Homo sapiens: one gene and its partners. The protein of the gene in region 6 purifies or fractionates together with the protein of the main gene of each other region. This does not show direct contact. Each region holds a gene or a part of one and is shown on either strand. Other genes may lie near its edges. The genes, in order: NBAS, CRTAP, MYO19, RAB31, KIRREL1 and SLC25A26.

The links.
Region 1: the proteins of SLC25A26 (region 6) and NBAS purify together in Homo sapiens (affinity purification with mass spectrometry; one large-scale study listed by BioGRID and IntAct). This does not show direct contact.
Region 2: the proteins of SLC25A26 (region 6) and CRTAP purify together in Homo sapiens (affinity purification with mass spectrometry; one large-scale study listed by BioGRID and IntAct). This does not show direct contact.
Region 3: the proteins of SLC25A26 (region 6) and MYO19 purify together in Homo sapiens (affinity purification with mass spectrometry; one large-scale study listed by BioGRID and IntAct). This does not show direct contact.
Region 4: the proteins of SLC25A26 (region 6) and RAB31 purify together in Homo sapiens (affinity purification with mass spectrometry; one large-scale study listed by BioGRID and IntAct). This does not show direct contact.
Region 5: the proteins of SLC25A26 (region 6) and KIRREL1 purify together in Homo sapiens (affinity purification with mass spectrometry; one large-scale study listed by BioGRID and IntAct). This does not show direct contact.

Annotation. Positions count from the first base shown.
Region 1 is NC_000002.12:15,467,335-15,470,834, reverse strand, and holds part of NBAS (NBAS subunit of NRZ tethering complex), read left to right. Parts: intron 1-2,301; coding exon 2,302-2,453; intron 2,454-3,030; coding exon 3,031-3,171; intron 3,172-3,427; coding exon 3,428-3,500. UniProt on the Homo sapiens protein: Involved in Golgi-to-endoplasmic reticulum (ER) retrograde transport; the function is proposed to depend on its association in the NRZ complex which is believed to play a role in SNARE assembly at the ER. Required for normal embryonic development.
Region 2 is NC_000003.12:33,117,014-33,120,513, reverse strand, and holds part of CRTAP (cartilage-associated protein isoform 1 precursor), read right to left. Parts: intron 171-3,500; coding exon 21-170; intron 1-20. UniProt on the Homo sapiens protein: Necessary for efficient 3-hydroxylation of fibrillar collagen prolyl residues.
Region 3 is NC_000017.11:36,524,869-36,528,368, forward strand, and holds part of MYO19 (unconventional myosin-XIX), read right to left. Parts: intron 3,335-3,500; coding exon 3,196-3,334; intron 2,832-3,195; coding exon 2,683-2,831; intron 2,589-2,682; coding exon of another isoform or gene 2,496-2,588; intron 474-2,495; coding exon 360-473; intron 1-359. UniProt on the Homo sapiens protein: Actin-based motor molecule with ATPase activity that localizes to the mitochondrion outer membrane. Motor protein that moves towards the plus-end of actin filaments. Required for mitochondrial inheritance during mitosis.
Region 4 is NC_000018.10:9,711,301-9,714,800, reverse strand, and holds part of RAB31 (ras-related protein Rab-31), read right to left. Parts: intron 1-3,500. UniProt on the Homo sapiens protein: The small GTPases Rab are key regulators of intracellular membrane trafficking, from the formation of transport vesicles to their fusion with membranes.
Region 5 is NC_000001.11:158,084,145-158,087,644, reverse strand, and holds part of KIRREL1 (kin of IRRE-like protein 1 isoform 1 precursor), read right to left. Parts: intron 3,224-3,500; coding exon 3,066-3,223; intron 1,050-3,065; coding exon 899-1,049; intron 1-898. UniProt on the Homo sapiens protein: Required for proper function of the glomerular filtration barrier. It is involved in the maintenance of a stable podocyte architecture with interdigitating foot processes connected by specialized cell-cell junctions, known as the slit diaphragm.
Region 6 is NC_000003.12:66,259,001-66,262,500, reverse strand, and holds part of SLC25A26 (mitochondrial S-adenosylmethionine carrier protein), read right to left. Parts: intron 451-3,500; coding exon 346-450; intron 1-345. UniProt on the Homo sapiens protein: Mitochondrial S-adenosyl-L-methionine/S-adenosyl-L-homocysteine antiporter.

The DNA of each region.
Region 1 (3,500 bases), on a different chromosome or scaffold from region 6:
GCACACAACACCACACCTGGCTAATTTTTGTATTTTTAGTAGAGACGGGGGTTCACCATATTAAAAATAACTGGCCGTATAAGTAGATTTCAGATACAACTCTAGAAACCCAGTGAAGATAGTGATTATTATAGATCTGGTAGAGATGGAAGATTTTATATAGTGAAGATGTTTGGAGCAGGGATTTGGAAGGATTTAAATTAGGCCTTCTTGAATGAGAAGGGAGGAAGACATTCTTAACAGGACAGATGGTATGAACAAATTAAAAGACACTGAGCATGATTTATGAGGCCAGTGACTAAATCTGTTTTATTCACTGCTATATTTCCATGTCTAGTTCAGTGGCTGGTGTGCAGTAGGTGCCCAGTAAACATTTTATGGATAAATGAGCTCTGTACATCAACCAGTTTGCTGGCACTGATATTTGACAATAGTGAACACTGGGAAACATGATTGAAAAGATATATTGATTTGAGTTCAGGAGGATGTGGAAAGCTTCTGATGACTTAGGCATTTATCTACTGTTGTGGATTTCTGACTGTGGAAGCAGAGGAAGATGGTGTAGAGAGAATTGGAGTGGAAGGAAGGTAGGAAACCTTGCTTGGGGCAGGGGACTCCTACAGTGTGCTAGATGTTTTGTGTTGATGATTTAGACTGGTATGGAGGCCGCAGCTGTGGAAAAGGGAAAGTGAATTAAGAGACATTTGAAGAAAGAACTGATGTGAGGCAATATATAAAGGATCCTAGGGAATGAGTCAAATCTTAATTAAAATTTATAACCATAATAGCTCTTTCTAGGAAGAGGGCAAGTCAGGGATTTTTTTTTTATTTTTTATTTTTTAATTATTATTTTACTTTAAGTTCTAGGGTACATGTGCACAACGTGCAGGTTTGTTACATATGTATACATGTGCCATGGTGGTGTGCTGCACCCATTAACTCGTCATTTACATTAGGCATATCTCCTAATGCTATCCCTCCCCCCTCCCCCCACCCCCCAGCAGGCCCCGGTGTGTGATGTTCCCCACCCTGTGTCCATGTGTTCTCATTGTTCAATTCCCACCTATGAGTGAGAACATGCGGTGTTTGGTTTTCTGTCCTTGTGATAGTTTGCTCAGAATGATGGTTTCCAGCTTCATCTATGTCCCTATACAGGATGTGAACTCATCCTTTTTTATGGCTGCATAGTATTCCATGGTGTATATATGCCACATTTTCTTAATCCAGTCTATCATTGATGGACATTTGGGTTGGTTCCAAGTCTTTGCTATTGTGAGTAGTGTCGCTATAAACATACGTGTGCATATGTCTTTATAGTAGGAAGATTTGTAATCCTTTGGGTATATGCCCAGTAGTGGGATTGCTGGGTCAAATGGTATTTCTAGTTCTAGATCCTTGAGGAATCGCCACACTGTCTTCCACAATAACAAAGACACAACATACCAGAATCTCTGGGACACATTTAAAGCAGTGTGTAGAGGGAAATTTATAGCACTAAGTGCCCACAAGAGAAAGCAGGAGAGATCTAAAATTGACACCCTAACATCACAATTTACAGAACTAGAGAAATAAGAGCAAACACATTCAAAAGCTAGCAGAAGGCAAGAAATAACTAAGATCAGAGCAGAACTGAAGGAGATAGAGGCACAAAAAAACCTTCAAAAAATCAATGAATCCAGGAGCTGGTTTTTTGAAAAGATCAACAAAATTGATAGACCACTAGCAAGACTAATAAAGTCAGAGATTTTGAATGGAGTTGGAGGAAATAGTTGGGAGGGAGGAATAGGACTTTGATCTTTCCAAAAAACAGCATATCATGACTTTTTATGATCAAGTTATTCACACCCTGGGATATATCTCATGGTCAAATAAATACAGAAATTTGATGGGCTCATTTGTTTTGTTTAAAAGTTAAACATGCTTATTAATTATGACAGAATATATCTTGCCTTTCTGCCTTATTGTCTGCTCTATTATACAGCCACGGTGCAAACCAAAGGCATTTATAAAAGTTAGGAGGAAACATTTTATATTTCCAAAAATGAGTCCTGAGCTTTCTGTTTCTGCGTAGCTCATTAGAGGAAGAAAGCAAGCAGGTCAACTCACACTCCCCGCATCCAGTTGTAGTCACCATTAGGCAACTGGCTGCTTTTCTCTTGAGTTCCTCTAGCAGCTCCCTATGGCCAAGGTCCTAAATAGCTGTAATACATCAGGTATAGCTTTACAATTCTGAAGGCAGTTGTAATGTGTTGTAAGATGTCATGGATTCTGTAATTCCTCTGTTTCTTCCTTTATATGCAGAGTAAAATAAAGAAGCGATCCTGGGTTCTCCATGAGTGTTTGGAAAGAGTTCCTGAAAATGTGGATGCTGCAAAAGAACTGCTTCAGTATGGATTAAAAGGCACAGACCTGGAGGCTCTTTTAGCAATAGGGAAAGGAGCAGATGATGGCAGGTTGGTTACAGAAAGAATTGGATTCAAAGTAAAGGTGACTTTGTGAAAACTTTTGTACTGAGACATTGGACTGGGTAAACTTTTCTTTATTTAAGTTATTCTGTACTGAAGCAGTTGCTTTTGATCAATACTGTCTTACCTGAAGTCATTGCTCATCAGGCATTTGGAACTTTTTAAAAAATATAAATATGAGAGTATATCTGAGAAGTAAATAATTAAAATGAGACTGACACTACCATTTGAAGACCTTAAGTAGAAGTGATTCAAATAGCAAACTCTGTGGACATTTTCAGCATAGGCTGCTTTACATTGAGTGAATGTAACCCCACATCTCTTCCTAAATAGTTTTCATTTTCTTGATTTTTAGATTTCTATTTGTAATAATTACTGATGACTTTTTGCCCATCTGTGGATATAATGAATGATCACTTTGTTTACAATGGCAAAAGTTTTTTTCAAATACTTTCTTCTGTTTTTGTGGAAATCAATAATGAAATCAGTCAAAATAGGAGAAAGCTTTTCACAACACGAAGTTTTTAAAAATGATGAAAATATATTTGTTCTTTTATACTTGCAGATTTACATTACCTGGTGAAATAGACATTGACAGTATCTCCTATGAAGAGCTTTCACCACCTGATGAAGAGCCTGCCAAGAATAAAAAGGAAAAGGAGCTCAAGAAGAGACAAGAACTACTGAAATTAGTGAACTTTTCCAAGTAAATGAGTTGTTACTGTTCATTTGATAGTTTCTTTAAAATAACTAATCATTTCAGTGTGTTCCTTACTAGTAATAATTAGTCCAAATTATTTTAGCAACTTAGATCAAATGTACTTACTATTATCTTACCCTTGTGCTTTTCTGAACTGTTTCATGAGTTTTGGGCTCAACGGAATATTAATCATTTTCATTATAACTCCTAGAGAAATAATTCTGTGTAAATATAAGTGGCCTAACATAGTTATTCAAAACAGGTTGACACTGGAACAAAAGGAACTTTGCCGTTGTAGACGGAAGTTATTAACCTACTTAGATCGACTTGCAACA
Region 2 (3,500 bases), about 33 Mb from region 6:
ACATAAAAATCCAAACATACTTCATATGACTTGGTTTCCAGGTCTTTAATGTAGTCCTCGGCACCAGGCAGGCTCTTATAATATGCCATGTTCCTCTTCATCATTTCGTCATCAGGATGCTTCAGTAGAAAGGTGTGAGCAGCGGCGATGGCTTTGGGGAGATTATTTGCCTAAAAGGACAAAGAACATAAAAGCTACTCCATGGATGCTAAGTGGTAATTTTTGTAAAACAAGAATATCTGCTTAGTCCTTCAGAAACTTTGTGTTGCTATAACTTTTCCAGCTAAAGGTTCCATGACTTCCAGGGCCCCTCAAGACCAAGTCCAGGCACTGTGAGACAAGTGCTGATTTCCTGAAAGCGACTGTCTGGATGGCCTCGGTCTGCCTTTCCCAATCTACTCTGCACTGGCTACATGCCCCAGGAGGCTGGCCTGTGTGGACTATAACAACAGACTCCCTCGCTCTCTGGCTTCCAAAGAGGTTCACCCATGAGGAGCCCCAGTAGATGACTGAGGAAGGGAAGAGAGTAAGGTCATGTTATTTCATTTCCTGGTTCCCTCCCTGCACAGTCCTCTTGGGCTGCTATGTCCCTTAATTGAAGATCACAGTTCTTCTCAAGGTGACCCTCTCCATAGAGTCTCCCTCCTTCCCGGTTTCAATCACTGCTCTCTCCCCTGCCCCTTTTGGCCTAGGGTTGGTCATATCCCACTGCTATCACCCCTGTGGCAGAACACTATCTCTTGTGGATTCCCCATGCACTGCACACACCTTTGTAAATAACCACCTTCTTAAACTTTCCTCCAATTACCCAATATGACTGCACCATATCTTTTCCACTGGCACCTTGACAAATATATTGTTTTCCCAAATCCCCCACAGACCTTCTGCTAACATTCTCAATGACTCCACCACCTCCTCACTTATTCATCCATTCATGCAGCAATAAACGTCATATTACAAGAGCACCATTTCTAGGTTGTGGGTCTATAACAATAAGCAAAACAGGAAAAAAAAATCCCCACCTGCATGGACCATATATTCTGTTAAGTTCTCCCTGTCTCCTAGTGGCCTCAATTAAGAGCCTCTCTGTTGGGCTAGTTCTGGGTTCTGTCTTCCCGCATTTTACGCCACCCTACAATCTCAGTGGTACGTCTATCTCCCCCATCAGACTATGATCCTCGGGGGACCCAGCTGTGTGTCATTCATTATCTGGATTCCTGGTGCCTCACACAGTCCTCAGGACAAGGCAGGACACAATAAGTATCTGTGATTTGAACATAATGACATTATGACCATAAAATATAATAAAATTAATTCACATTTTCCTCTCTTTTCCCCTCTGTCTTCTCTCCATTGAAGGGGCCAATGATTCTGAGTTTCACTGTCTCAGGGGAGGTAGATATCTGGTCAGAACCAGCAAATTATTCACTTGAAAAAAGCCTGCACTCACAAAAGAGCCTGACAGGTTTGAGGGGAGAAAGAAATTGGAGAGGAGCTGCAGGAAGAAGCTGACTGGCCTGGGAGAAGAAGAGGGAGAAAGGGAATCTCCCAGGCTAGGAAAAAAGTTTCCCTTGGGATCTGTGAGAGCAGCAGGGCTGCGGGCCCCGGAGCTTCAGGGCTGGCACTTATCGGCAGTGTTCAAGACGGCAGAAGTCCTCAGGAAGAACAGGTATGTTATGGCAGGACCTCAGGAGGGCAGGCAAATAAGGATGCAGAGGCCTCCCTGTGAGGACTCATGACCACCAACCAGAGGGCCCCCATGCTGATGGACTCTTGGCACAACCTAGTAGGGAGAAGGGCAGGCACCTGTGCATGTGCACAGAGACTCAGCCAATCCAGAGGGACGCTCCAAGGCGGGAATTAGGGAATTCGGTTTAGACAGAGAAAATAAAGGAATATTTGGTATACCCTAGACTTCTAAGAGTCATAGGATGGCATATATCGGTACCGAATTGCCCCAGAATTGGAACCAAGTCATTTTGAGACAATGGCAGTGGCCACATCAGAGAAGTGGTGGGTGGTGATGAGGGCAGACTCCCAGATGTCAATGCTGATGTTTTGGGAATGCCAATTAGTGGCTTGTGGCAGGGCTGCCTTTAAAACAGCCCTACAGAAAGCTTCACACTCCTGGCCAGAAAAAGGCTAGTCTTCAGCTGGAAGGAAGGGAGAGGGTATGAATGCTGCCTTTTAAAGCATTTGCCAGTGAAATTAGAGTCACTAATTCTCAGAACAGCACTTAGAAAGAGGGGCACAGAGGCCGGGAGCAGTGGCTCATGCCTGTAATCCCAGCACTTTAGGAGGTCGAGGTGGGTGGATCACGAGGTCAGGAGTCCAAGATCAGCCTGGCCAAGATGATGAAACCCCATCTCTACTAAAAAGACAAAAATTAGCCAGGCACAGTGGCAGGTGCTTGTAATCCCAGCTACTCGGGAGGCTGAGGCAGGAGAATCACTTGAACCCGGGGGGCGGAGGTTGCAGTGAGCCAGGATCGCACCACTGCACTCCAGTCTGGGTGACACAGTGAGATTCCGTCTCAAAAAAGAAAGAAAGAAAGAAAGAAAGGAATAGAAAGAGGGGCACAGAGTAGGATTTTTAAGGCTTCTAACTTAGGATGTTTTACAAAACGGAATCTCTTCCTGAAGAGAAAAGAGTGATTTTATTTACTTCAACTCAGGCTCTGCAGCTGGAACATGGAGACACATCTTGGCTACCAAACCTCTGACAGACCCCAGGCAGATTTTGGAGAAGGTGGTAGGGATGGAGGGAACCACCTTGCCTTGGGTTCCTGAGATACAGCCACCAGCATGAGCCACCCTAAATCAGCCATGACACAGAGGCAGGCCCTGTGGTTCCGGGGAGTTAGAGGCCACAGCCAGGCAAGGCCTGGGGTTAACAGTGCCTGTGAGTCAGTGTTCTCTGTCCAGGTTAGAGCTCAACAGTCATTAAGGATTTGATGAAGTGCTCCGGCCTACTTTTTGCTTGGCCTATGAGAAAAATGAGTTTTTCGTGGAAGATGGTAATTGTGGAGAGAACCCAAAGAAAGCTAATGACATGGACCTAGAGTAGGCTGGTGACGAGAAACCTATGATGCACCTGAGGCTGCACACCAGTAGCACAGCCCTTTTCTACAAGAGCACACATCCAAACCTCCTCGCCTCCCTCTGGCAGTCGGAACCCACCATTGCTATTCCAGTGATCAATTGAGGCATTTCTCCTTAATCACTGAAACAGAGAACTGCAACTCAGAACAGCAGAGTAACATTTATCCATGTCCTGCCACAGCGCACTATCTACCTTCATATCGACCTCCAGCCTTCAGGTGCCAGGTAGAATGTATGTGCCTGCCACCCATCTTTTCCTCTCTATCCATAAACAGAGTTTAAACACGTAAACATCACTTTTTTTTGACACAAGAGTCTTGTTCTGTCACCCAGGCTGGAGTGCAGTGGTAAGATCACAGCTCACTGCAGCCTTGACTTTCTGGGCTCAAGTGATCCTCC
Region 3 (3,500 bases), on a different chromosome or scaffold from region 6:
TACTTTTCTGATGTGTTCTTAACCACTATGCTGGAATCCCCAGCAGCTGACTTTTGTTTCCAGTAGTGTCAAGAGCTGGGAGACACTTTCGATGAGAAAATAAGGCTTAGAAAGGAAACTTCATTCCTATTTCACCCAGGGTGATGGCAGAGCTTGCAGTAGAGCCTGGACTGGTATCCTGTCTCTTGACTTCCGGCTCAGTGCTAGCCCACCATTGTGCACCAACCCCAGCTTCAGCCAGCCTATGTGGGAATGATTAGGAAGCAAACAACTCCACAAGGAAGGCCAAGGAATGACCCCTGCCTCCCTGTCCACCCAGCCAGTCGTGAGTTGACAGGATGGGAAAGACGTCTTCCTACCTTTCCAGCACCACTCTCTCCACTGACAACAATAGACTGGTTGACTGGTTCAATCAGGCTCTTGACATTCCTGTAGGTCTGTTCACCCACAGTGAACACATGGGGCTTCAGTTTCTGGAACATCAAGGAGTGAAAGGTCATGTGAGGGAATGCCTGTTTTTCAATGATGACTGAGCCAATGATGACTGAGATGGGGAGGCTGCCAATAGCAGTGGTGGGATGCTTCCTCCAGAAAAATTTTCTGGATGTCACATTGTTAGGCCCAACTTTAGAACCCCTATGTTGGCTTTACCTATTCATTTTCTCTCAGCCTAGAAGCAGGGCTAGCCTTGACCAGTTTATGACATTAACACTTTATACCCCCATCTTATCTTGCTTTAATTGTCTTATCCTTCTGCCTATTACTTCATATTACTATAATTTGCAATTTGCAAAGTTCGTATAAACTACTAAGAAGCCTGTCCACTAATTGGAAATATAACCCTATTTTATAGATAAGGAATGTGAGGTTCAGAGGAGTTAAATAACCTTGCAAGGCCACTCAGCAAGTAAGTATATCCATGTGATTTAAATTCCAAAGCCACTGTTCCCCTTTTCTTCAACAACTATTAACTGTCTTCAATGTACTAGGCATCAATCAAGCTGGATGCTGAGGAAACATAGGGGACTACGACTTGGCTTTTACTTTTCCGGAGGCAGGGCAGACAGCAGACAGGGCTCTCAGGACAGACTGCCCCTGGATTCCAACTGGATACCTCATCACGCATGAACTTCTGGAGGGCCACGCCATCTCCACAATGCCTAGCTAACCCAGCCAGCAGTGATCACTTACCCACAGCTTGCTGAGGGAGAAGGCAACTGTTCCATATGGCGTCAGAGCCACTCCTCTCTACACCTGCCCTTGCCCCAGCCACCTATCACCTGGAGGGATACAAAGCCTCCAACTGTTGTCTCTGCCTCCTGCCTCACCTTCTTGAACCCAACTCCCACAGTAATTATTCGTCTAGTGGGTTCTGTTCCCAGTCCCACCTCTACCTGGATGAAGATGCTCTGCAGATTCTCTCTGCCTGCTATGGTGCTTCAGACTCTTCACAAACAACCCTGGCTTTCTCGTCTTCCTGCTCTCATCTACTCCCTCTTGCCCCCAAGACCTCCCTCCTGCCAGCAAGTTTTCTCTCACCTCTCCCTGAATGCATCATGCACTTTTACACCAACAAGCTCATTATCTGTCTGTACCTCCACCACCCCACCCCAAATAACTTATCCTTTTCTCAGTAAAAGAATAAGTTACTTTCCTCAGCAGAGATAAACATATGCTGAATTTTCCAGGGCAATCCTTATCGTGTATAATTTCATTCTTTCCTAAAAAGGTAGTTTTGCTGGACTCAGTGGCTCATGCCTATAATCTCAGCACTTTGGGAGGCTACGGCAGGTGGATCACTTGAGGTCAGGAGTTCGAGACCAGCCTGGCCAACATGGTGAAACCCCATCTCTACTAAAAATACAAAAATTAGCCGGGCATGGTGGTGGGCACCTGTAGTCCCAGCTACTCGGGAGGCTGAGGCACAAGAATCACTTGAACCCTGGAGGCGGAGGTTGCGGTGAGTCAAGATCGCACTACTGCGCTCCAGCCTGGGTGACAGGGAGAGACTCAGTCTCAAAATAAATAGGGCCGGGTACAGTGGCTCACACCTGTAATTCCAGCGCTTTGGGAGGCCAAGGTGGGTAGATCACCTGATGTCAGGAGTTTGAGACCAGCCTGACCAATATGCCTACTAAAAATACAAAATTAGCCAGGTGTGGTGGCATATGCCTGTAATCCCAGCTACTCAGGAGGCTGAAGCAGGAGAATTGCTTGAACTCAGGAGGTGGAGGTTGCGCTGAGCCCAGATCATGCCATTGCACTCCAGTCTGGGCAATAAGACTGAAACTCCATCTCAAAATAAATAAATAAATAAATAAATAATAATAAAAAATAAAAAGGTAGTTTGTTAAATAAACAAATATATAATACCTTTATAAATCCTTTCCTGTTAATAAAACCGCAAACAAGAAAAAAAAATCCTTTCTCTTATGTCTCTTATTTTAGGTTCCAAACTCAGTTAAACAAATATTTATTTATTCCCCACTTTGCACCTTCTGTCCTGTAGTCAGTTCTTCATGGTTCAAAATTCTGCCAGCTCCTATTGGGCAGGCCGTGGCACTAGCAGACTCTGAATGACCACATTGCTGGTGAATAGATGAATAAGGACAGGGGTAACTGCAAAGAGGTTTAGCGGGAGGTAGAGGAGCCCTGAGGCCACAGGCAGCGGCAGAGCCTTACCTGGGGCTGAGGCGCAGCATGGTACTCTCTCATTAGCTCGGGCGAGTAGAGCTGAGGAACAGGCTTGAAGGGGTTCAAGGCTACCAGGGTGCAGCCAGCATTGGTGTAGAATGTGTCTGCCATGTACCGGGCCTGCAGGCACCTCAGGACTGAGGCAGAGATGCCTTTAGCAAACTCGGGCTCAAATATAGTCAAACCACACACACAGACACACATCTACTTAAGTAACAGCCCTCTTTCTGCAATTAGCCAAGAATCATTAAATCCCAGCAGCTCCCTGAAGAAAAGATACAAGATCTAATTAAGATGAGCTCCAAATCTGAAGCAAAGCATGCCCTGGGGAGCCCAGGTGCAGCTGTCATGCTCCCTCAGGCGGAGGTCTGGAGCAGCCCACCTGGCTCCAGATCAGGAGTCCTGCCGACCTCCGTCTGACCTGGAGAAGCTGTGCTGACTACTCTCATTACACCTCCAACCTCCTGGAGATGATACTCCTGAGGAATGGGAGGCCCATACCTGTCTCTAGTGTCACAGGATTCACCCTGGTGAGGTCATCCAGTTTGTACAGCAGGACCTCCCCACCCAGGAACTCCTGCAGGTCTTCTCTGAGGTACTCCCTGGCTTGGCCATCAGACCCCGGATTGTGGCCATTGACCTGGAAGAGATAACGTGAAGGTGAGGCCAGGCACAGTGGCTCATGCCTATAATCCCAGCACTCTGGGAGGCCAAGGCGGGCAGGACACAAAGTGAGGAGATCGAGACCATCCTGGTTAACACGGTGAAACCCCGTCTCTACTAAAAAAAATTCAAAAAATTAGCCA
Region 4 (3,500 bases), on a different chromosome or scaffold from region 6:
TGTCTTTGGGAAGGCAACAATCACTGCCATCCTGTCTACATGCAGCCACCCACAGCTCCCAGCATAAAAGAAACACTCCACAAATGGTGAATGGCTGAATGAATGAATACCTATTCCATTTTCAAACACATGTCATAAGTGATAAAAACTAAGATAAATGAAAGTGTAAAATCTGCACAGGCATGCAAACACCAAATAAGCGTTATCTACCAGGCTTAATTAAATTTTAAAGGTCTTTTCCAATTAGTGAACTCAAAAGCTTTTGCGTTCTAGCACAGAGGTCCCCAACCCCTGGGGCGGTACTGACCCATGGCTTGTTAGGAACCAGGTTGCACAGCAGGAGGTGAACAGTGAGTGAGCATTACCAGCTGAGCTCTGCCTCCTGTCAAATCAATGGTGACATTAGATTCTCACAGGAGTGCAAACCCTGTTGTGAACTGCGCATGTGAGGGATCTAAGTTGCATGCTCCTCATGAGAATCTAACTAATGCCTGATGATCTGACGTGGAACAGTTTCATCCTAAAACCATCCCCCGCCTCCTGCTCCCATCTGTGGAAAAATCGTCTTCCACAAAACTGATCCCTAGTGCCAAAAAGGTTGGGGACCACTGTCCTAGCATCTTAAAATGTAAAGTTTCCTATTTTCTCATGGCTGTGGCCTTAGAGCAGACCTAAAGGATATATCACACTCACTAAAACAGTGTCATTGGGCCAGGGCAAAAGTAGAGGCCACATGCCTGAACACTATTGACAAGGTACTATGGAATTAATATTTGTGTCCCTCCAACAAAATTCCCATTTTGAAGCCTAACCTCCAATGTGAGGATATTAGGAGGTGGGCCTTTGGGAGGTGCTTAGGTTGTGAGGGTAGAGCCTTCATGAATGGGGTTGGCGTCCTTATAAGAAGAGAAAGAGACCGAGCACTCTCTCAGTCATGTGAAGTTACAGCAAGAAGGCAGCTGTCTGCAAACCAGAAATCGAGCCCTCACCAGGCACTAGATCTGCCAGCGCCTTGGTCTTAGACTTCCCAACCTCCAGAACTGTGAGAATTAAATGTCTATTGTTTAAGCCCTCCAGCCTATGGTATTTTTGTGACAGCAGCTCAAATTAAGACATAAGGGATGGGGGAAGGGACCATGAGAAGCTTGAAAATGCTCCTCAAATGATTCTGATACACACTCCAGAGATGCACTGAGCTCTGAAAGCTGAGGGAGGATGAAAGCAGCAATGCTGACCCTGAACAAAGGAGGAACAAAGGGACCCTGATGGATTCCATCAGCCTGGGATGGGTGCATAAGACACAGTGTTACCATATGCCAGGCACTGCTGGGAAGATAGCCCACTATATCATATTTATTCTCGTGTAACATAGAACGTACCCAGAGTCACCAATGCTGAACATACTTTCCACAAATGGTTCAATTTAGTAGAGGAATCAGTTGTGCCAAGAAATAAATGCTGTGGCTAGCCACTCAACCCTCCCCACCATCCCCCTTCCCCAAGAAATGCCAGTCTCGGGAGAAAAAATAGTAAGTTACTAGAATCTCAGACTTGGAAAGCAAATGTGATCATTACCTAGCCCAACCCACTATCCTATGCATTACTTCCTTCCACAATAACACTAACAAATTCTTATCACCTTATTGGATACTCTGTCATACAGTGCTCATAGCAACTCATGTGAGGTTGCACAGTTCTGATGATCTGCCTTACTGTGAGTATAAATCTGTTCTACTCTTGCGTCCTAGTGTCCCTGGGGAGACAAGAGGCCTTCCATGCGAAGGCCCTGGACATAGGTGAAGTACCCATTACCCAGATGTCTCACCAAATCCCAGGTATTTGACTGCTCTTTAATGAGCCACCATATACATTCCAACAAAGATCACAAGATGCTTCAACAAGCTCCTTACCAGAAGCAGGGAAGCCATCGGCTCTTTTAACTGATCACTCAGCTATTGAGGAAGTGGTAGGAATTTCTAAATTGTTGTCAAGACAACCAAAGTCCAAATATAAATCTCTTTGGGATTCCATCAGGAAGCAGTTTTTAAGTGCACGCAGTTTTTAAGTGCACGCACACAAATACCCCAAGGAGATAACAAAACAAAGGTCCCCTCCTTCTCTTTCTCCTCCTCCCCACTCTCTCCCTTCCTCCTGCTTCTTGCCACATGGTGATGTGTGTTAAAAATGCATACTGGGAAACTTTTCCACCTTTGGGGTTGAAGCAGCTGCTGCCTCAGTGTTGTTTTTGTTAAGTATTTTTTGTTGTTGTTGTTAACATACTTTGTTGCCTTTAAGCTTCATGTTTCATAATACCAGTTCAGATCACAAAGTGGGACGAATGACACTTTCCTGGTAAGAAGGAAACTCATGGGGTCCTGCCCAGGGTGCTTCCCCCTATCAAGCACACCCTCCTGCACGGCTGACTTCCACAGGTGACTCGGCTCAGGCCAGGAAAGGGCGTTCACAAAGGCTTGCTGGGCTGTCCCCATGTGGAATAAACCCAAGAAAGTCCACACATGAAATGTGAGCCAAGAATTTATAACAGGTAACCTAAACAAACCCAACGCTCTTCAGTCCTTGGTTTTCCAAGAACACAAAGCATTCAGAGAATGTTCCACAGGCCATTATCCATCCCATGTGGGAGCATTCACCAATAGAAATAAGCTTGGACATTCCTAATGTGCCAGGAAGACAGGAGAGGTTCAGGTAAAGAAGACCTGGCACCCGGCCCACTTTCACTCCCACCTGCTGCAAATGACTCTAACGTCAGGAGGTAAGACCTCCGACCCCATGGATGGAGCAGGAAACTACAGCAAAGAGTGACCAGCAGGGAGCCTGTGCTGAAAGCGCCTACTGCCCATGCCTAAAACAACCTATACCTTAAATGCGAAGCATGTCCCCAAGTCCCCACTGAGCACAGTACCAGGCACAAAAAGACCAACCCCTCAGCCTTCCCAGTGAGAGTGATATTTTGTTATGAAGTCTATGTTCTCTATCACCTTATAAGGGAAACCCGACAGAAAGTGATTCTAACAGGCAGAAAGAAGGTGTGGCTGTCAGGGTCTTGGTCATAGCAAGACTTCAGGGAGGTGTCTCATGGCTAAAAAACAGGAAGCTGAATGCCAGCCACACACAAAACTTCACCCAGAAAAGACAGACCTCCCTACGCAAAGCACAAATGAGCCCAAGGTTCCTGTTAAAATGTTGAAAGAGCCTGGGCAACATAGGGAGACCCCATCTCTACAAAAATAATAAAAAGTATTAGCTGGGCTGGGTGGTACACACCTGTGGTCCCAGCTACTTGGCAGGCTGAGGTGGGAGGATCACCTGAGCTTGGGAGGCTGAGGCTGCAGTGAGCCAGGATGGCACCATTGCACTCCAGCCTGGGTGACAGAGTGAGACCCTATCTCAAAAATATACATATATTTTTTAAAGGACTTTTGGACTTAGCACTGACTGATCCACAGGGTCTCTCGAATCAAGAGAATAAACCTAGGCTG
Region 5 (3,500 bases), on a different chromosome or scaffold from region 6:
GAGGTTGCAGTGTATCGGCTCCAGTTAACACACTGTCTTCCTCACCTTTTGCACATGGAGCCTCTAGGGGGCCTGCTAGGGTGACCACCAATGAAGGCACCAAAGGGACAAATAACTCAATGGACTAATGACCCACTGTGGCCACTAGGCGTCAGTGTGAGCTTGCTTGGCTCACTAAAAAGGATGGGGTGTGGGCATCCCCAGTTGCTGCCCACACCCCCATGGTTCCCTGGGGAGAGACAATTTATTACACACCTACCAGGTAAGAATACTCCATGCTAGATGCTCTTCTGCTATATCTCATTTAATGCTCACAACCCCAGGAAGCAGGTCCAGGTCCACAATCCCTTATTTGAAACCCTTAGGACTAGATGCATTTCAGAATTTAGAATTTTTCACATTTAGAAAGGCAATGGTTGTGCATAGAGCGTTTACTGTGTAAGATCCCCAGCAGCATCTGGGCCACATCCCATAGTCACACATATGAATACATCTGCAGTGAAACTTAAGACTAAATTAAATAAAAGACTATGAAGAGCCTTGGTTCAGGCTGCACCATCGAACCACTTTTAGTTTGAATAAGGGACTGTAGGCCAGTATTTTATCTTTTGCAATATACAGTATACAGAACTGGAAACCGAGGCCCAGAGAGTGTAAACCATTGACTAATAACAGGCTGGTTTAGACCTGGGGACTGCCTGACTCCACAGCCAATGCTCTACCAGCCCTTAGTCCCCATGGTTCAATCCAGGGAATGAAAGATGTGAAGAAGGCAAGCGTTTGTCCTGGGGACCATAGGGGGACTCTTAGTTTGTGTTTCTCAAACTAAGAGTGTGCTTCTCAAACACACCCCTTCTTCCACCCCCCTGCTCCAGACTGCTCCCCCCAGCCCACTCACGGTGCACATCCAGCTCGATGGAAGTCTCCTTGCCACTAGGGATGGCTTCGTTCATGCTTCGGCAAGTGAAGACACGCCCTATGTCCAGGTCCGTGGGGTTAATAAGCAGTTGGCTCACGGTGGTCTCCCTCTTCCCATCCTTCAGCAATTCCTGGAACATGACAAGGGTGGGAGATATGGTTAAGCTAAAAGCCCCCTCCTCTGCTCTTAAGTTGACCTCACTCAGAGATGGGCTTGGGCTGGAGGGGTACTTTAACTTAAAGCTCAATCCCCTTCACTCCCACAACCTCTTCCCTTGTGTGTGTGTGTGTGTGTGTGTGTGTTTAATCAATAGACTACTAATTATCTTTTAATTAAAAGTTATATATTTTTAGGGTCTTGCTATGTTGCCCAGGCTGGCCTCCAAAGCTTGGACTCAAGCAATCCTCCTGCCTGAGCCTTCTGAGTAGCAGCGACTACAGGAGTGTGCCATCATGCCCACATCACAGACTATCTTTTGGAGCAGTTTTAAGTTTACAGAAAAATTGAGCAGAAAGTACAGGGAGTTTCCATATACCCTCCTCCCCGACCTTACACTTTCCCCCATTACTAACACCTTAACACCTTGCATTAGAGTGATAAGTCTGTTACAACTGATGGACCGAAACTAATATATTATTATTAAGGCCACAGTTTATATTAGAGTTCACTCTTTGTGAGTCCAGCGCAAATCCCTTCTCTTCTGGAAAGCCTTCTTCAGCCAGCCCAGCCCTCAGAACTCTCTCCCAGACTGAATTTATGCCCTTATAGTCAGTGTGTCCTGCTCACAGCTCTAGACACATCCAACCTTGCTTGTAGGCACCATGTGTGCGTGTTTCAGGGTTGGGTTTCTTCTGCTAAACTGTAAACTCCTTGAGGGCAGGGAAGGGACTCACAGGCTCGAAGTCTTACACTTGCTCAGTGACAGCCAGGGGTCCCTAAATATGGTCACAGGAACCCTTGATCTGTTTTCTATATTGCAAACTGCCTGAGGGAAGCCATATTATTAATCAAAGTAAGACCCCGTTGTTTGACCACCATGCATGCAGCTTTGCTGGACAGGCCCAGTTGAGGGCCAGTGCAATAACACTGGCTCCCTTGTGCTGCTTTGAAGCTCCATTGTCTTTAATGAATATGAAAAATGGGGGTAGATGACAAATGGATATTAACAAACCAACTTGTTTGGTTGCCAAAATATCTAAAAACATGTAGCCCTGATGAAGAAAAATCACAGTTTTTGGTTGTGAAAAGGTTAAGTACCACTGAGGCTGAATTATCATTTGTCAAATGAGAAACTAAGGCCAGAAAAAAGTGAAGCGAATTATCCAAGGTCACACAGTGTGTTAAGGGCAGAACTGAAGCCAGAAGCCAGGTATTCCTGGGATTGCTTGCTGAGGAGCATGGGAACATCTCTGTCTCCACACTGAGAAGTGCTCCTGCAGCACCAGCAAAGGGCTGAATACACATATGTTTACCCACAACTGGCAGGGTAACCCCAACCAGGAAATCTGGCTTTGAATTCCAGCTGTACTGTCCGCTTTGCTATGTAATCCTGGGCAAGTCACTTGATATCTTTCATGGCTTCCTCATCTATAAAATGTATACAAGGATCTCTGCTTCCCCAGCCTCTTTGTTGTGATGACTGGAATAATCTGACAACCAGACGCTGAAGGAAAGAGGTAGAAGTGATCAGTGGAGAGAAAGCACAGTCAGACCCAGGTACAAACCCCCGCTCTGTGCCAGCTGTGTGACCTTGGACAAGTCACTCAACCTCTCTGAGCGCAAGTTTCCTCCTTTGTGAGTTGGAAATAATGCCTCCTTTATGGGACTCCTATGAAGATTAAGAGAGACTGTCCATAAAGTGTTTAGCATGCACGGTGTCTGGCACACAGTAGGTGCTTAATCCATGGCAACTTATTATTACTATTAGTCTCTGTTCAGCTACTGAATGACACAGTAAACCTAGGAATTCATTTCTCTTCTCTGGGTTTCAATTTTCCCAACTGTAGAATGAGAGGGTTGAACCAGATGACCTCTAAGACCCCTCTCATGTCTGTGTGCTCCTGAGTCTGTGGTGAAACCCCTGTGGGAAAGGAGAGGTGAGCTGGGCTAGGCCCAGGAGGAGCTGGGGGAGCTGGCTGGAGCTCACCGTGCTGGCCACAGCGCCCTCCTGCTGCGTCCCGTCCCGGAACCAGATGATGGTGGCAGCAGGCTTCGCATTGAAGGCCCGGCATGTGAGGTTGTGGGGGGTGCCTGCCTGCAGTAGAATCACAGGGCCTCCGTCAATCCTGGTGTCCTCTGGGGGGACTGTGGGAGAAAGCAGAGCAAAGTCAGTGCAGGGTGTGGCTAACACTTCCCTGAAGACCAAAACTCCTGCCTCTGGAAGCATCCTTCCACCTGCATGTGCGCCTCTAGGTAGGCGGTACCACCCTACCCCCTAATCTACAACCACTGTCTTCATTGCTCTTGTGGTGGCTTCCTCTAGGTCCTCAGCTCACACATCTTTCCCAGTCCTTGTCTGCTTTTCTTTCCTGGCCTATAATATTTTCTGGTACTCCATGCCCCTACTGGTTTATTGTTTGTT
Region 6 (3,500 bases):
TAAATCTCTTCCATGGACCTAAAATACTATACTGATGTTTTAATATAATATCTTTCTTCATTTTACATATTTAAAATTTGTTTCACATCTGATTCCAGAAGAACTGCAGGAAGATTACAATTCAGGACACTCAATGTTATGCTCAGAAATTTGAAAAACATGTAAATGAAAATATTCAAAAACCAATAAAAGGCAAAGATAATCTTAGCAAAAATTTACTATAACTGGACATTAAATTTAGCTCTAAAGTTTTCTCTAAGGCTCTTAGGATGAAATCCACAGTGTTCGTATTAGCTACTATAAAATCTTAATAAAGAAAAGAAGAGCTTAAAAAACCCATCTCACCTCTTCATATAAGATGTTAGAGAAAATCTGAAATGTTCTTGTAGAAGCAGATACCTGTGCCCTCTGCTTAACCACTTCAGATGGAACTCGAATCAGGCAGGCAACCTAAAAGACAAATTTGATTATATCCTAAAAAGTAAATAACTGCTATAAAAATTGAAATTTTTTGGTAAGCAAAAATTGTAGTAAAAAGGTATAATATGTAGGCTTACTGCAAGATGTCAAAAAGTTTCTTTTTTTTTTTTTAACCTAAAACTCTTGGACCCTTAAAGCATGTACATTGTTTTGTCAGCCCAGAACCTTTCCTGGCTTGTCCTATATAGATCCTGCCACCTCCCGCCAGATGTTCCAAGAACATCTGTCTACAAGCCTCCCAACGGCAAGAAGCACATTTACTCATTTCGAATCCCCAACGCCCAGAACTGCAACTGGCACATGACATTTCAAACATGTGTGATGAAAAATGAACCAGAGGAACCTCTGCTTTACTGGAAGTAATGCATACATCCGTAGAGGCAAGCTGACCATCAGCTGGTACCCAGCCTTCCACCCTTCACCAACTCCAGCCCCTAGACCTCTTGATCATGCAGCAACTGAAAAGGGACTCCCAGCACTCTCATACACTCTCCTCCAGCATTCCAGCAGACTTGAGTCATCCTCACAGCTACCAGCCAATATATGATTCTAATATCACCCTTGGTGACATGCTGAGGCCGGGTATATGTCATCTCAAATCCACACTGCCAGGATTTTACCTTACCCTATATTAAGGTAATTTACTTATTTTCAGAAATAGAAACAATAAAGAATTAGTCAAACCCAAAGGAACTCTGCCCACAAAAGCAAAGAAGGCAAGGTTGGAGAAGGGGTGGCAAGGTACAGGGAGGGAGATGTGTAAAAATATTTTAAACATTTTAATGAAAGTCCTGTATTTAAGCCGCTATGCACCTAGCAGTCTGCAAATATACAAACTTTTTCTGCAACTTAGATTTCACATATGTAACCTTGAACATGAAAGTTATGGCACTCGGGAAGCCGAGACAGGAAGGTCGCTTGAGCCCTGGAGTTCAAGACCAGCCTGCAAGAAATGTAAGAAAACCATTCCACCAAATAGAGTACACAACTCAAAGAGGTTTGCCCTTTATGATCCGTATTCTCCTGATTCCTAATCAGAGATCAGTACTCAATTTGGATATCACATAAGGCTTTGCCTGTCCAAAATTAAATGGTTCTAAGGCAAGGCTCTACAGCAAATTTATAATGTAAAAGACCAAATAGGAAATATTTTACAGTTTGCAAGCCACATGGTCTCTGTCACAATTGTTCAACTATGCTGTTTTAGCACAAAAGCATCTATACATAATAATATATAAATTAAAAGTTTGCCTATGTTCCAATAAAACTATATTTACAAAAACAGGTGACAGCTTGCCAACTCCTACTCCAAGGGAATTAGCCTTGGCAAGAGCAGACTGGGCACAGAACAGATATAAGCCCGAGCACCCCATGACAAGTGGGACAAAGACACCATGTGATGTGATTTTAGATGTCATGAAGTCAGCTAACACGGGCATATTGCCTCTAAAGCTAAGAAGTAACAATGCTTCATACCGATGCATTACAACAAAGGGTATGGTTATGTTAACAAAGGATTCATAACCTGAAGTTATTTTTCTACCAAAACTGACAAGATTTACAAAACGATATCATCTGATTTCCATTTCTTCATTCACTGAACATTTGAATGCTTCTTATGTATAAAGCTGTCTGTAACTTGGGCCAACATATTTTTCCACCCAGTCTCCCTTCAAACTTATCTAATTCAGTTCAAGAAATACATATGGAGCCAGATACCACACAAGCCACTCCATGATAAAGAAGACTAAGATGATGCCCTGGCTTCAAAGAACCCGCAAATACATATAAATAATTTCAATAAAACATGGCCAAAAGGGGGGTGGGGCGCATGGACAAAGATTATGGGAAATGTGGAGGAGGGGTATTTAGTCCAACCCCCAGATTCAGAGAAACTGCCCAAGATTACACCATTATAGAACCTTCTGGATGAGCCGGAATGAGCTGGCAAGAAAGGTGGAAAGGGCACAGTGGGAAGAATGAACAATAAAAGGAAGTACATAAATACAAAAGCAGGGTGTTCAGGGGAATCAGCGGCAGTCCCACCAACACAGTATTCCAAAGCTGGCAGCTGCCCACACCATTCCGTATTACCAAAGCAGCAAGTGCAAGGTCAGGAGTAATGACAAGTAAGACTGGACAGACAAGGCCCTGTATACCATGCTAAGGGGCTGAAACTTCATTCCATAGTCAGTGGGAACACTTGAAAAAGCTGAAGCAGAGGAATGACGTGTGCTTAGGGAGATCACTCTGGCTGCAATGCACAGGACAGCTGGAGGGTGGGGAGGAAGGCAAGAAGCAAAGGGGGACCACGAGCCAGAAGGCAAAAGATGGGTTACGAGACTGCTATAGCAGTTCTATAAAAGACATCTGGAAATGAATATGGCTCAGAGAAGGTCAAATCTGAGGAAAAAGGAGTAAAATGCACCGGACCTGGTCACTGACAGGAGGTTAAGGAGTGAAGAAGTAGGGAGACAGTAAGATGCTTCTGTTTCTGGTTTGGATAATAGGCATATGGTGGTCCCAAAACATGAGATTAGCAGTCCAGGGAAGAAGGGAGGTAAGTTCAGACTAGGCAAGGCTGAGTTGAAGTCTGGGGGACAGGTAAGGGGCTATGTCCAGTCAAGAAATGAATATATGGCTATAAAACTAGAAAGTAACTTTTTCTTGGATGTGAATACAGATATGGAAGTCATCAGCATACAGGTGATCGCTAAAACCAGATAGTAACACCCAAAGAGAGAACCAAAAAGGAAGATCAAAGCCAATAATGGAACCCTGGGAACATAAATTTCTAAAGAGCAAGCAACACTGGAAGGCGGTACATAATGTTGCAGGGCACACCTGCCTTCTCTGGCAGCCCAGCTTCCGACTCTCACGTGTGGGGGGCTTCCCAGTTAGGAAAAACAAAGGGAGTCAGTCTCTCCCCTCCTACCCTGGCAGGAGGACCACAATCAGGTGAGTTAGGTCTGGCTAATCAAACACTCCCGTCCAGGGGTCTGATTCTAGAGCTATGCTGG